2 separate regions of the Homo sapiens genome follow, and region 1 is linked to region 2. The links come from fine-mapping of genetic effects on plasma protein levels. Region 2 holds a variant in brackets. A gene starts in the other region. All regions are shown on their reverse strands. Region 1 holds the start of MFAP5 (microfibril associated protein 5). Region 2 overlaps FNDC3B (fibronectin type III domain containing 3B).

What was found. A credible set is the group of variants that fine-mapping cannot tell apart. PIP is the chance, under the fine-mapping model, that this variant and not a neighbour inherited with it causes the effect. Protein levels are from antibody-based Olink assays in UK Biobank. Linkage for the fine-mapping came from a reference panel and not from the study's own genotypes, which makes the PIPs less certain.
Region 1: it holds the start of MFAP5, and the variant in region 2 is the best candidate, but not a certain one, in a credible set for the plasma level of the MFAP5 protein (UK Biobank, PIP 0.89).

Annotation. Positions count from the first base shown.
Region 1 is chr12:8,657,948-8,666,282 of GRCh38, reverse strand. It overlaps MFAP5 (microfibril associated protein 5), which reads left to right and starts at 3,457. Exons shown (of 10, transcript NM_003480.4): 1 at 3,457-3,656; 2 at 4,177-4,236; 3 at 5,385-5,420. The coding sequence starts at 4,179.
Region 2 is chr3:172,077,331-172,085,665 of GRCh38, reverse strand. The region is part of intron 1 of FNDC3B (fibronectin type III domain containing 3B); the gene reads right to left. Among named protein-coding and RNA genes, the nearest start is that of FNDC3B, 42 kb to the right of the region's middle. The variant T/C (reference allele first, on the strand shown) is at 3,200.

The DNA of each region.
Region 1 (8,335 bases), not on the chromosome of region 2:
GGATTAAAGATATGTAAAAGAGTTTAATAAAGTGGATTATATAATTATACAAATAAACAAAGAGTTGGTTTAATAGAGGGAATGATGAACTCTTTAGAGGCAGAGGAGACCAGGAAAGGTTTCTGGCAGGAGGCGACATCTAGGCCGGATTTTGATGGACAAACAAGTGTTCCCTAGCTTCAGTTTTCTAAGGACATATGTCTTTTGGCATCTAAGTCCATCTTTTGTGTTTGGCTGTTACTACTTCATTGCTTCATTCCTCTACACACACCACTCCCTCTCCCTGCCCTCCCTGCCTCATATAACCTTCCCCCTTTCTTTTCCTTCCTTTTATGGGAAATTTTTTGTGTGTGTGTTTAGCTCCTGGGTTTAATTTAGTTGGATGGGACTGTAGTAATAACGTTTCTGTACATTTGCCCAGAGGCCTTCAGCTAATGGGTGTATTCTTTACAAGCCAATAAACAGATGAATAAAACCAGCTTGACATCTCGCATCTCTGTCTCTCTCCTCTTTCTTTGCCCTTTGCCCATCTTTCACAGACATTTTATAAAAACGAAAATTTTCCTGGGTAACTCAAACATAGATTGCCTTCATTAAGTCACTTCTACACGCGCCAGTCAGTCCCATGAGGGGCTTTCTTATTGCTGGAGAATGTGTTGTCTACCCTCAGGAGATCCAGCCTATATGGGATGGAAGTATGGATTGCTACTCAGTGAGTCAAAAAGAACCCCAGAAAATTATGGACTTGTAACTCTGGATGGCATTTGCTCGTTTCTGACCATTGGTGCTGATTTTGACTTGATGTCATTAAATGATTAATTAATGTACAATGCAACAGAGGCTGACAAAATCACCCTGAGAAAAGCAAATCTGAGGATCTCTAAGCCTGGGGATCCAAACCTGGGCTCTGAGAACAAATGGGGAACTGTAGTAGAATAAAGGGCCCGCCATAGTTGCCATGAAAAAATTAACCAACCTTGGCCAGGTGTGGTGTCTCACACCTGTAATCCCAGTACTTTGGGAGGCTGAGGGGAGCAAATCACTTGAGGTTAGGAGTTCGAGACCAGCCAGGCCAACATGGCGAAACCCCCTCTCTACTAAAAATACAAAAATTAGCCGGGCCTGGTGGCGGATGCCTGTAATCCCAGTTACTAGGGCAGGAAAATCACTTGAACCCAGAAGACGAAGGTTTCAGTGAGCCAAGTTCACGCCACTACACTCCAGCTTGGGCAACAGAGCGAGACTCTATCTCACAAAAAAAAAAAAAAAAAAAAAAAGAAACTAACCAACCTTGAAACAAACTGCATTCTCAAAAGTCTTTAAAACCCAACAATATATGGTTGTCCTGCTCTTCTGCCAGTTCCTGTCTCACTACCTCTCCTTTCCTTCTAGGATGCTACTCCCTGCCTGTTCTCTTCTTCAGCCCTGCTCTGAACATTCTGTTCCTATTTTCACTGCCCCAACTCCAGACTACCTCCTACAACCCCAGGAGAACGCCCCCTCCCACTGCCTGGGGAGGCTCTCCTAAACTATAGCCTCTAGCCAGGCCAGCACATTGAGGTCATTGCTCTCCCTGCCAAATGACTGGCCTGAGTTCAGTGTCTCCATCTGTCTGAGCTTCATGGAAAACTTGATTGTTGCTCTAGGCTCTCTATTCTATGTCCTGCCTTAGCTATGTCCTGCTTTGCATCTGCTTTTTTGTTTCTTCTCCCAACACCCTTTTCTTCCCCTGACTCTCCTCAGACTAGAATCACATCTGTTTTCTAGTCTCAGCCCCTTCACTGGGGAGCAGATGGAAGAAGAGCAAGTTCTGGGGCAGGAAGATCAGGAAGAGCTGGGCGTAGCACTCAGCTTGTTCTGCGGACTGACCAGATTCCATGTATCTTAGAGATGTAGCACTTACAGCTCCCTCGGAGGTCCCAGAGGTGCTTACAAAGTGCGATTTGCTTATTTCTGTGTCCACTGCTCTTTTTTCCTCTCAACTAGACTCCTTCCTTCCTTCTTTCCTTCTTTCCTTCCTTCCATCATACCCCCTTTTATTTTCTTCTAGTATGTAATTTATTAATACTATCTGCTCTCTGTCTACCTGTACTCTTCTCTAATTTATTTCATCAGGGAGATATATAATGTAGACTAAAGGGGAGCCAACAGGAAACCTGAAACTTACATATTTCTATGGCATACAAGGTCCACCATTCCTCAGACTTGAGTTTCTGTAATTCAAGTTTGCTCTTGAATCCAAAGCGGGAATGTTTTAGTGGTTGAACCACTAGAGTCTCTGTGAATAAGAAGAAATACAAAGCCTTTAAAATTCCTGAATCAAGGCTGAGCAACATAGCAAAATCCTGTCTCTACAAAAAAATACATCTAAATTCGCCTGGCATAGTGGCATGCACCTGTAGTCCCAGCGACTTAGGAGGCTGAGGCAGGAGGATCACTTGAGCCCAGGTCAAGCCTGCAGTGAACTGTGATCATGCCACTGTACTCCAGCCTGGGTGACAGAGCAAGACCCTATCTTAAAAAAAAGAAAAAATCCTGGATCAGAGAAAGTGTTATCTACACATTATATGATCTAAGGAAAAATATTGGTAGAAAATGAGGCAAGCATAATAACCTTGCCTTTCAATTTTCTTTGGGCATCTGATTGCATTTTATCCTTAAGAGCCCAGAAACCCAGATTCTTAGTTAAGCTCAAACAAAGCCAAAAGACAAAGTAAGGCTGGCACCCCTTTCACAGAGCTTCTCTACATTTGAAAATGATTTGGAGAGTTCTGAAAAGTTCCTCAACTTTTTATAACCCTAAGGTAGCCAGCCTTCCTCTTGGACAAAACTCATAAGGTATCTGTGTTCGCTTGGTTGTGAGAATACATAGGATATTCCAAGGGGAAAAAAAACAAGAAGAGTCTAAATGTGTAGGTCAAGAAAGAGGCAGAGATGAAAAAGAAATACAGGAATAAAAAGAAATTTGTTAGTGCTGAAGAGACGAATATTGAAAAAGAAAGTGAGAAAGAAGGATGAAGGAATGATTCAAATATGGAATATAAGGAGGCTGAGGCAGGATAATTGCTTGAACTCAGGAGGCGGAGGTTGCAGTGAGCCAAGATCACATCATTGCACTCCAGCCTGGGTGACAGGAGCAAAACTCTGTCTTAAAAAAAAAAAACAAAAAACAAAGAAGAAGAAGATAGCCAGAGAGAGAGAAACAGCATCTATAATGTGCATTAAAACACACCAAGGAGGAGACGGAACTTTTCGGTAAGAAAGAACCCAAGGAACAAAGGGGAGCTGGGACCAGATCGTGAGAGGAGGGAAAATAGGCTAATGGAAGAAAGGCAATACATGAGCTGGGGCCAACACTTCCAGGGAGCAGCAAGAGCTCTCACCAGTGTAGTCATAACATTTGGAATGAGGGTGTGAGCAACTGCAAATTCCCATCTCCCTTCTCATTCCAGCCTCATTGTAACACACATTCTACGCCTAGCCTGGCTTTCTTGCTCTCCCTCATCTCATTGTTTCAGCGGAGGCCAAATCTGAAGTCCTTTCCAGGGAGTGGCTCTGTTCATCTTATTCGCCAGCCAAAGTAGGAACAGCGTAAGAGGAGAGAGACACATTCAGCAGCCAAAGGACTCGGTGGAAAGAGCAGAACACCATAGACAGTGAGTTATTTGATTACCTGAAACCCTAAAGAGACAGAGGGAATGTGTGTATGTCTGTGTGTGTGTGAAAGGGCTGGAGGGGGCAATGGGGAATGTCACTGAACTTAGTCTTGAGCAGACCTCCCAAATAACCGTGGAATTCTGATGAAGGAGACGCCAAGATGAGCAGATGATATGAAAAAGTCACGCATATGAGAAAGGAAGATTCCACATCAGGGGTGAAAGAGGCCAAAGGGTAGGGCCAAGTACGGACCATGTAGAATGTAAAATTTCCTCTGACTTGGTAGCAGAGAATAATAAAAGCAAGAATAATGGTAAGTGACCAAGGAATAGATTTGAGGGAGAAATGAATGTTGGGTGAAAGGTAAGAAAAGAGAGAAAGGGTTTGAGTCATAAGGGAAAATGAAGAAAGTTCTGGGAAGACAAAGAGACAGGGACCTCAGAGGCATCTTTCCCTGGCACTGAAATGCTGATGTGCCTCTGAGCATCACATTCTCTGCTATGCCCACCACCCCTATAGATATGTCGCTCTTGGGACCCAAGGTGCTGCTGTTTCTTGCTGCATTCATCATCACCTCTGGTGAGTCCTTTATTCTTTGCTCCCTAAACCCTCAGCTCCTCAGCTATACACGTGTGTGGCAGGAGATGGGATGGAATGAGGTCGAAGAGGAATAGCAGTAGAGATGCTTGGTATTGAGCTCTGGAATTCCTATTAGAAGAACAGATTTTGTGTTAAGAAAAAAAGTTCAGGAATGTGACTAGACTTCAGACTAGGGGAAAGGCCTCCCAAGAATTATGAAACTAAGGTGCAACTAAGATACACACAAATGCATATTAACCACCCAAAGAGGGTCACATATGAGTAAACAAATTGCAAAGCAAAAAAGAAGCTGATATACAAATGCATACACAAACATAGAGGAGGGACTACCTAGAAAGAAACTGGACCTGGGCTGGGCATGGTGGGCTCACACCTATACTCCTAGCACTTTGGGAGACTGAGTGGAGAGGATCACTGAGACCAACCTGGGCAACATAGTGAGATGAGTTAACCTCATCTCCATTAAAAAAAAAAAGGAAAAAAGAAAAAAAGAAACTGGACCAAATGTAAATCTTGAAGAAGAACAGTGGGAATACATACACTATTACCATCATGCATGCAGGTATACTCACATGCATGCAAAAAATATATGCCATACTGACACACAAGAGAAAAGTGATCTTCACAGATTTCCCAGAATCTGGCTAGAAGACTGGCCACAGAAAGTGAACTTTAGGCTGTAAAGATGTCCTACTCTATTTTTTTCCCTCCTTCTTCCGATACAGATTGAGAAAAATAATTCTTCTGTCTTGTTCACTAGCATAGCTAGCGGGGAAGCCGTGGGGCTAGAAGGGCTGCCAGGCCTCTCAGTGGAGCTGGACTTCATTCCTGGCCAGGAATGAGGGTAAGAGGGCAGCAGGGCTTTGTTCTCAGGAACTTGTCTTTTTTTTCTTTTTACCAAACAAATGCACAGCAGTGAAGGAACTTGTCTTTCTGAAGTCTTTCTATTCCTATTGGTTTTGTTCATAGCACTAATGGTCTCAGTAATTTTATATTGAGCTATATAGGAATAAGTCACAAAGATAAAGTATAACCATTTCTCCATGATTTTCTGATTTGTCTCATAAAAGGGTTACGAGGTATAGAGCTGCAGTCACTCACATCTCTTTTCTCTTCCTTTGCTATAGACTGGATACCCCTGGGGGTCAATAGTCAACGAGGAGGTAGGTGAACCCTTGGATAGCGGCTCTGTTGGGGTTCTTATCAGGAAAATTTAGATGAACAGAGTTAAAAAATCCTTCCTGCTTATCTATCGCTGCCAAAAAAAAAAAAAAAAGAATATTTCCTACAACAAAGAGATGCATTGCCAAAGTGTGAGAAATAGGATCAACTTCACCAGTTTCCACAATCCTATTATCCCATTCATAAAAGCTTCTTGTGTGTGTGTTTTTAAACTACTGAAACACCTTCCCAAGACATCCTCTATGACCATTTCTGTTTTCATTTTTCTTTACACATCTCCTATCTTACTCAGAAAATGCTTACTAGTCCTTACAAAAAGCGTTCCTTAATTCATGTAACAGTGGAAAAATGAAAGACAGGATAAGAAGTCATCTTATACCCATAATCCCAGCACTTTGGGAGGCTGAGGCAGGAGGATCGCTTGAGCCCAGGAGTTTGAGACCAAACTGGGCAGCACAGGGAGACCTCATCTCTAGAAAAAAAAAAAATTAGCCTGGCATGGTGGCGCATGCCTGTGGTCCTAGCTACTCAGGAGGCTGAGGCATGAGAATGGCTTGAACCCAGGAGGCTGCGGTTGCAGTGAGCCATGATCATGCCATTGCACTCCAGCCTGGGCAACAGAGTGGAACTGACTAAAAAAAAAAAAAAAAAATTAGAAAAAAAGAAGTCATGTCAATCCTAGGTGAAATTGTGGCACAACTGAGCAAAACCCAAAAGGTATTTTTTGGTTTTTCAGCTTTTTAGGTAATTTTTGCTCACACCATTCTCTATAACAAAAATCCCAAAAGTTGTGACCCCTAGAGGACCACTTCCTTCGACTTCATGAAGAAAACTCCATTCTGCCTCAAGGCATTCAACATAATTATAATTTATCTCTTTATTTCTCCCATCCCAGGAGAGTTAGAGGACAGAGCGCTCCAGTAGGCAACCTATTAATGGGATCATGAAATCAATTTAGTGGGTCACAACTGGTATTAATTTTTAAAATGAATTAAGATAGACCAAAACAAATATACCGGGATGCATTGCATGTGTTTTGCAAGAGTAAAGTATTATTTCATACAACTTTAATAAAACTTCTCTTAGTTTTCCATATGTATATACCAGGGTACAGTATATTTTTCTTGCAGTGGGTCCTGGTACAGAAGATAAAAATACAAAAATTTTTTTTCTGTTGTTGGTAAAAATACCCGAATCCCCGAGTTTCTGAATCTAAATCTGAATCTAGGAAAAAAGGGCAGGAATGTGACTAGACTTCAGACTAGGGGAAAGGCCTCCCGAGATTTTAGTACCAGCAAAACTGAAAATCGGAATTCATTTTTCTGGGCTGATTAGGAACCAGTCCTGTGTTAAGACTTTAGATGCTTTTCTCGCAGACATATCATAAGGTATGATGAACTGTCTTGCCTGGTGTGGTGGCTCATGCCTGTAATACCAAGCACTTTGGGAGGTTGAGGTGGGATGATCACTTGAGGCCATGAGTTTGAGATCAGCCTGGGCAATATAGTGAGACCCTTTTATTTTTTTTTTTTTTCGAGACAGAGTTTCGCTCTTGTTACCCAGGCTGTAGTACAATTGCGCGATCTCGGCTCACTGCAACCTCCATCTCCCAAGTACAAGTGATTCTCCTGTCTCAGCCTCCTAAGTAGCTTGGATTATAGGCATGCGCCACCACAACTGGCTAATTTTTTGTATTTAGTAGAGACAGGGTTTCACCGTGTTAGTCAGGCTGGTCGCAAACTCCTGACCTCAGATGATCTGCAGGCCTCGGCCTCCCAAAGTGCTGGGATTACAGGTGTGAGCCACTGCTGCCAGCCTGAGACCCTATCTCTTAAAAAAAAAAAAAAAAAAGCCAGGTGTGGTGGTTTGCTGGTTGTCCTAGCTACTCAGAAGGCTGAGGTGAAAGGATCGCTTGAGCCCAGGAGTTCGAAGCTGCAAAGGAGCTATGATGGCACCACTGTACTGCAGCCTGGGCAACAGAGTGAGACTCTCTCAAAAAAAGAAAAGGAAAAGAAAATACGTTAATTTTTTTTTTCAGAGAGAACTTCATGAATACTAGATAAAGCATTTATATGGTGATAGCTCTTGGAACAGTTGGTTAAACTGAGGTATATGCAGAAAAGCAGTACTCTGCCCTGAAATCCCAGAGACAGCTAGGATACATTCTCAAGCCCTCTGTTCCCCCATTGCTTTGCTCCTGTTTCTGTGAGTGGCTGGACTGGAATGTAGCTAGGCCTCTAGAGAAAGGGAACCAGGAAGGATTGGGCTACACCCGGGAGAGGCTCCACTCCTCTCCTGCAGTCTCTGGAATGATTCAGGTTAGTGGTTTTTCAAATATCCTGTGGGATTGGAACAGACTTGGATTCCTTTTGTTAAAAGATTGTTCTTCCAATCAATGACATCCTACTTAAAAAAAAAAGTGTTCTGAAAGAAGAAAGCCCATAATGAGTGTGAAAGGTTAAGAGGCTTTTTTGTCAAGCCTGATGAATTTTTTTTTTGGCAGAGTCTCACTCTGTCCCAGGCTGGAGTGCAGTGGCAAGATCTCAGCTCACTGCAACCTCCGCCTCCTGAGTTCAATTCATTCTCCTGCCTCAGCCTCCTGAGTAATTGGGACTACAGGCATGCACCACCCATGCCCAGCTAATTTTTGTATTTTTAGTAGAGATGGGATTTTACCATGTTGGCCAGACTGGTCTCAAACTCCTGACCTCAAGTGATACGCATGCCTTGGCCTCCCAAAATGCTGGGATTACAGGCATGAACCATGAAGCCCAGCCAAACCTGATGAATTTCTATCTGGAATTTAGAAAACAGGATGAGGTAAGCAAGGGAAATTCCTATGAAATGCTTTATTTGTATTTCACCTTTTTTATAATTATCCATAACTCTGATATGC
Region 2 (8,335 bases):
TTAGATAAACACATCAAGGGGCTCCAAGTTTCAATTGCCTAACAAGGGCCATGGAGGCAATGTCGATGAGTGAAGTGGTTGACCTTTCCTTTATTTCCTTTCAAAAAACATGGCTGAATATTTCTTCATATTTAAAAATTAAAGAATGTAAAAGATGGGAAAAAGCAACTGACAACTCAGCTTCGGTATCAAGAGTTAACAGAGAGTCAGGGGGACTGTGGTAAACTAGAGAGCAAATGCCCTTTCTTAACAGTGAGCTGCTATTTAGTTCAAGACCTTCACTAACCATATAGGAATGCAGGCCATGTTGTCAGATCTTTCAGTTTCTAAAGAAAAAAACAAAACAAACAAACCAAAAAAGCTAGAAATCTTATTTTACGTGAAATCCCTTAGTTCTTAAATGTTGCTTGCAAAGTTTTTAAAACACTCTACAAAACCAAACGCAAAAAAATCTGTAGGCCATATCCTGAAGCCCAGCTTTACAAATTCAATCTCATTGATCAAATCAAATGAGGTAAGCAGTATCATCCCAAGATGTCCCACCACTTGCTCAAAGCTGAAAACATAATCTAAGATCAAGGAGATGATCTCATCACCTTGTAGCACCACGTATTTACCACATGTTGATTCATTTCATCACCAAATTTACTATGGAGCTGGAGAACCCACTATGCATTAATATGCTGTTCCAGAAATTGAAACTTCACCAGTGCCCAAGACAAAAAAAGAAAGGCAAAAATTCTTGTTCTCATTAAGTTTACATTCTCGTAAGGGGAAAGAAACAATGAACATAATAAGTAAATTATGTAGTATGCAAGAAAATGATACATACTATTTTAAAAAACAGAACAGAGTAATTGAAATCAGGTGCACTAACTACATAGTCTCCTACTTTATGAAAGTTTTATTTGGGGCCAAAATCTTTTCTAAGGAGATAAGAAGCCGAATACGGCCAAACCATGTAACTGGACAAATTAACCTTGAATGTCTCAGTTTCGTTATCCATAAAATAAAGATACTGTTGCCTGATCTATGTAGCCCCAACTTACGTTGAAGACAACCATTAGCTAAATATTTGAGTGAACAAAAGTGAAAATAATAACACTATTTTAGTGGTAGAAGCATAATACTGCCTCATAAATCTTTCCAGAGATTCAGAATATACGTGTGTGTGTGTGTATGTGTGTGTGTGTATACATATACATATTTTTTTTTTGAGACAAGGTCTCACTCTGTCACCAGGTTGGAGTGCAGTGGCACCATCTCAGCTCACCACAGCCTTGACCTCCCAGGTTCAGGTGATCCCCCGACCTCTGCCTCCCGAATAGCTGGGCCTACAAGCGTGCACCACCACGCCCAGCTAATTTTTTTTATTTTTTTGTAGAGACAGGGTTTTGCAACATTGTCCAGCCTGGTCTCAAACTCCTGGCCTCAAGCAATCCTCCCACCTTGGCCTCCCAAGCTACTGGGATTAAAGACGTGAGCCACGGCACCCAGCCCAGAATACTTTGTAAACGTCCCAAGCCCTTTGATCCTTCAGAAGTAACAAGTAGCCACTAAAATCATTAACGTTTCCCTTCCATTCTGATGTTGACTGATCCAAAGGCCACAGAACTGTGGCAACCTCCATGAACTCTAGGAGAGGCTTTTACTTTTTTATACCTCTCTATTGTCTGAAAAAAAAAATTTCCTTTACTAAGAATATAAATAACTTTCACAATTAAAAAGAAAAATAAACTAAGGTCACAATGCAGTTAAGAAACAGAGCTAAACCTATGCCTGGGTCCACCTGGCTACTATACTTTCATTTCACAAAAAGATTAATAGATTTAACAGTGTAGAAACAAGATTTATAATTCCTGATTTCTTTTAGTATTTTTTTATTATAATCTGACCACATCTTGAAATCGTAAGAAGACGTCAATATACAGAAGAAATCAAGTTCTTTATATTTTCTACCCATCTTCACTCTAATTATCCAGCACTTACCATTTTCATTATGAATTTGCTTCCTAACAACTACCTGATGTCTTGTATTCTCTGTGAAGTTGCTAGTGAAGTGTTTTATTTGATTGTCCCAATTATAGGACATGATGGTTTTGAGACACCCCTCCATAGGTCTCTCATGCTTCTACATATCCTGCCATTTTGTATCAAGGCCATTTCTCAAAGTTATGTTTGCAGTGAGCAATGTGAACAGACAGATGAGGTAGTATCTTCCCCCTTGGAACAAAGAGCAAGTTCATTTACTGCATGCTATAAAAGCAGCAGATTCTCCGAGTTCAGTGTTCCTCAGCAGCAACGCAAACCCAAAGTGTGTGCAGCTCCATCTGCACGCTCCATCCTTATCACCCCTGTGGGACATGGAGGCAAGGACGAACCAACATAGGCATGCCAGTAAGCCCTAAGCATAAGAGTTTACACTATTTGGTATGTCAGGAGTAATACAGTCCTTTTTCTGTGGTACAGGAACCCCTTGTCTTCTCCCAGCATCCATGAAACTGTGGCAGGCTAACTATCACTTGAAGTAGGGTACAATCAAAACCCAGACTCAACAACATCAAATCAAGTTAAATAATCACTTATTTATTCTGAGATGTTGTTCTTGGTAAGCTTACACACCACACTTGCAAACATTCTAACCCTAACAGCATGCCTAGTTTCCTTTGTACTTTATCACTAAGGCACACAAACATATATACAGACATGAAATATCGTACTTCATACTGGGTTTCAGAAATACTTAATAAACTTCAATGGAATCTAGCTGTCACTAATTCAGTACCTCTTACTTCTAAATGAGTAGAGAGCTACATCTGGATGTGAAACTGGCATTTCCAATCCAGTCTTCTACCCTTTCACTCCCTCAGCACAGACCACTTCAGAGAAAAGAAGAGTAAGTTTTAGGCAAAGAGTCATAAAAATCCACATTAAGTCAAACTTCTCTGGGCCTGAATCTGTTTACCCACAAAGCAAGAGGGCCAGACCAGAGGGACTTGTCTCTTTTTCCAGTTACAATTCCAGTGATTCCACGTTCAGCCTATACATGGGTGGAACATTCTTTGCTGCTTCGTTCAGTGCTGGAGTAGGTTACAAAGTGTGGTCCTGCTGAACGGCTGGAGAATGAACTAGATGTCCTCTCAGGATGACTCCCGGCCCTATAATCCCATGATGTGCTTATAATGGAATTTGGCTGTCC[T/C]TATAATTAGAAATGTAGCTTGCTGGTCACACATCTGGATCAGATAAATCTGCACAAAGAGCATTTCACCAGAAGCAGAAATGCCAAGCATCCAGCAGCTGTGTCGTTACATCAGCCTTGCAAATAACAAGGAATACTATTTGTCCATAGAAAGTAAATGACTGGGTCAGGCAGGAATAAAGCTAAGTTTATTCACATTATTTGGGGACAGGAAAAAATGTTTATGAAAACATATATTGGTCAGACCTCCACATTAATGAATGAGACTGATGAGGAAAATAATTCATATACACAAAAGAATTCAAATGCCAAAACTATATCCTTATTTCCTGCCACCTTAATGATGAGTTTCTTTTTACTGAACTTTTATAAATGTAATAGGCTCCCCTGACTTGCATCTCAACATATCACACAGAATTGTGAACCTAATCCATAATTAAGTATTATCAAAGTGTCAAATGTACTCTGGGAATATTCACATCCATAGAAAATAAATGTGCTTCAAGTTAACAATTAATTTCACTCAGCCATTGTGCCCAGATAATATAAAACAAGAGGAAATTATTTTCCTTAAAAGAAATAAAAGCTCTTTTTAGTCAATTAGGTAAGCATTAACTACCTTTCACTTTGAAGCACATTTCTTAAAACCAAATGCTTAATGCACTAATCTAACTGCTCTGAAGAATAACTGCCAAAAGGTATGACGAGTGACAAACAGGTATGAATACCAAATCTGTCACCTGTTACTAACCTTACCAACAGAGCCATTCAATCTTCTAATTTATAATACTGCTCAGAATTTTATTTTCTGCATCCAAAAGTGTATTCAGCATATTATCGATCTAAGGAAAAAGAAAACTTTTCTATCAAGTCGATGCCTTATTTTGAAATGTATGTATGGAATTAATCTTAAGGTTTTATCCTGTAAAATGTAAAACTCAAAATAGAGTCACTTTATATACAACTATTATGTACCCATAATAATTAAAATTAAAATGTTAAAAACAGTCACTTTACATACAAAGCACAAATATGGAAAATCACAATATTAGCATGACTGCCCTTACTTCAAAATTCCAGGCTCATGTCAATAAGTTTTGTGCTCTGTAAAGAAAAAAAAGAGAACAAAAATCAGAGAGCTACTGAGACAAAAGAAATGCCACCGACACCAAGGTTACATTTCTGATTAATGGAGAAAACAGTGATGATTACAGAAGTAAAGTAAGACAGAAGCAAATTTCTGTAGTTGCTAAGTGGGAGAATCCAAAAGGTAATCTAACTCTCAGTTCTTACATCTGTAAACCACTAGTGCCAATCAATACCTATGATCAATCCTGAAGAGAGTACTGGGATAAAAAAGTCAACCGAATAGATGAATCTTAGGGAAAATAGAGTTACTACATCACAACTTTCAATCTCTATATATCAATTGTTAAAGTAAAATCTTAGACTAGCATGACACACTGATGGTCAGTTAATCAATTTTTAAGAGTGCATTAACTATTTCCAAACAATGGGAAACAACGTAAGCAGCTGAAGTCCTTAACTTACATGAATTCCTAAGTAAGTTACTATAAGGAAAATGAGTCCAACACTTGAAACAATCTAACAGTTGGATTCAGAGAATCTACTCTACAAGGATTTTACATGAAACACATGAGGTGCCCTTAACAGACACAGAGAGGAGATTCACCATCTAACTCCCATCTGAGGCCTGGCAGGTTTTTACTAAGTAAATATCAACTTTGAACCCATGATGGACACACATCAGTCTACCACCACCAGATTACAGGTGAGCTCTGAGCCTTTGGGCTTTATCCCAAAGTGAAACAACACTAGAAGGGCAGGTTCCATCCCTTCAAGACTAGAGTCAAAAATTCAACGATTCAGGCCTAGTACAGTGCCTCACACCTGTAATCCCAACACTTTGGGAGGCTGAGGCAGGAAGACTGCCTGAGACCAGGAGTTCAAGACCAGCCTGGGAAATATAGCAAGACCCTTCATCTCTAGAAAAAAAAAAAAATTTAAATTAGCCAGGCATGGTAATACATACTTACAGCCGTAGCTACTTGGGAGGCTGAGGCAGAAGGATCACTTGAGCCCAGGAGTTCAAGGTTGCAGTGAGCTAGTATCATGCCACTGCACCCCAGCCTGAGTGACAAAGCAAGACTCTGTCTCTTAAAAAAAAAGAAAGAAAAAATTCTAAGCTTCAGAAGATGCCTTCAAGGGTGGGAACTCCCAAGACATGGTTAATAGCAGGACCACACTCAGTTTCAAAAATCAATTCATGAAATATCCAATCTCCTTTCAAAGCCCTGGATACAAGGCAATTAATGAAACTGGGTAGTACCCCTTTTTTTTTATAATTCAGGTAACTGATTGTCATTAGCAACTAGGTCTAAGAATGCAGTATGAACATTTTGTAAGACAAACCTTATTTTTCTGTTTTGAGTTTTTCCGTAGCCCCATTTTCTTGACTGGGCATTTAACAAACTTTTTGTTTTAGGACCCTGTTTGTGATCTCAGATTTGAAGCTGAACATCTGAGATGTTACGCAGCCTCATAGGGTTTCAGTTACCAAGACTGACAGATCAACAGCTAGGTTGGCAGTGCAAAAATCCACTATCTGTTTTTGAAGAAACGGATTTTCTGCCTCCATGTTTTTCATTTCCAGGAATAATACTTCTCTCATGACAAGCAGACTTGTAAAATGAGGAGAAGCCCTTATCAGAAACCAGACTTCCTCCCTCTCCACACCCAGCACCTCTCTTTAAAAAATGTCCCAAATCCTGTCTTTATTAGAATTTGAATTTTGTCATCTTAAAGGATACTGGTGATTTCCCATATTATGGCTATACGGGAATTATCTCCCATCCCCAGTGCTAAAGTAAGACCTCAACAACAGCCAGCACAAGAATCATTGCAAGATACCTCTGTTTTGATGGCAGAAATGCCCTGGTTGCAAAATTTCTTTCCAATTATCTGAAGTCTTTTGGGTCTGTATCTGTCCAATTCACTTGCCAGTTTGTTCTTCCTGATCTCTTCTATTAAACTAGCAGAAGCATCTGGGACTGCAGCTCCCAACACAGAATCCCACCAAGGCCAAACTCCATCTTTGGAGAAAGGGAGAGACCCATTCTGGATTTAACAAGCATGAGGACCACGCAGGCTCCTGAGACTTAATACACATTTATTTTTTTTCCCCAACCAGCAGAAGATACTGAGGCCTCGTCTCACTAACATGCTACAGTTTAACAGCATGTTAAACTTTTACAGTAATGATGAATTCATATTTTTGATGTCATGTCTTCCTAATTCTGGGGAGATCATTCATTCATTTATAAATCTAGGGCCAGATCAAACTAGGTCAACCAACACTGACCTTATATAAATGTCAGTCTCTACCAAGGGCCTACTGCATACATAATTTCTATAGGGCGTGAGTTAAATTATTATCTCAAAGGTTACTAAAATACCGACCTCAGAGATTACGTGGGGAAAAGTCATCAGTGTGTTCTTTATTACCTGTATCAACAGATCGTGTAGTAAACACATTCCCGTGGCAATCATGTGATGGTCATCACCAAGAGAACTTCCTTTAGCAGGCTGCCTTGGGCAGGAACATTGAAAACTTTTACCTGAATTGCCCCTCTCATTTGAGGAATGCACCCTCAAACCAATGAGCACAAGAAAGACACCTGGGTGGCAGCGGGCAGAAAGCTATCATTAAAGTCAAAGTGTTTAGTGCAGATTGCCCTCAACCAAAGTACCACTGTTTTCTCATCTACAGCAACCTTAATGTTTCAGTATATTTGAATATCTACCCCCGATCAGCCTACTGCTCATTTCAAAGAAGCTAGGATGAAAAAGAAAAGGCAGGTTTTGTTTCACAAATGAAATTTACTATTTTCAAACAAAAGGTAAGGAATACATTCTGCAGTCACAGGCCTGGCTCCTCTACCTTCTTCTGATGCAGCGACCTACATTCCACTGGAGGTGGACATTGCAACAGCCCCTAAACCACAAGACGCCACTTACAGGTCCATAGTACAAAACAGCTATTTTCACATATTTCAAATTGAGGGAAGGGTTCATTTTAAGAATTAGTACAAAGTGTCATCTCACCTTAAAGAACAACAAGTCGAAAGAAAAGAGTTCACAGAAAAAGAGTCTAAAATATGAGCTCTGGCTGGGTGCAGTGGTTCATGCCTGTAATCCCAGCAATTTGGGAGGCCAAGGCAAGCGGATCACCTGAGGTCAGGAGTTCAAAACCAGCCTGGCCAACATGGCAAAACCCATCTCTACTAAAAGTACAAAAATTAGCAGGCCATGGTGGCGGCGGCCTGTAATCCCAGCTATTTGGGAGGCTGAGGCGGGAGAATCGCTTGATCCCAGGAGATGGAGGTTGCAGTGAGCAGAGATTGGCCCCTACACTCTAGCCTGGATGACAGAGGGAGACTCCATCTCAAAAAATAATAATAATAAATAGAAATAATTAAAAACAACAATAAAATATGAGCCCTAATTTGGATGTCTACCTAAAGTTATAATAATTAAACACATTCCACTTTTCTGTGTGCTTTATTTTGATTACTATTTTGTGTTTTGAGGCATCATTCTGCTGTAAGCCGAAAATATAATTTTTTAGGTAAATGTTAATGCCAAATACTATTCCAGTCCATCTTTGGGAATTTAAATTACTAGGCAACTTAAAAGCATTCAAGTTTTCTTTTTTGGGGGGGAAAAAGTCAAATATTTCTATAAACGGGAGCCTTTCTACATGAGACCACAGAAAAGAATTCATTAATTTTCTCTCAGACAACCACACTGGAGGCCAAAATCTTTGTTCAGGAAAGGGAGAGAGCATTCATCAATTAGGTATAGTAATGTTCTGGGGCTTTGTTTATAAGTCCGACATAAATCGCCATCTGCTAACTTGGACTAGAAAGCTTTAATTGATATTTATGTAGTTCAGAATAAAGTAAAGGAAGAGGCCTGTGTGAAAACACCACTCCATAATGATTTTCACACCGCTGGATCAATGCAATCCTATTCTGACTGAATAATGTCATGTTTAAGGCTTCCTTCCCATGCCCTTTCATTATCTAGACATTAGTTTCTCATGTTAGAAATATA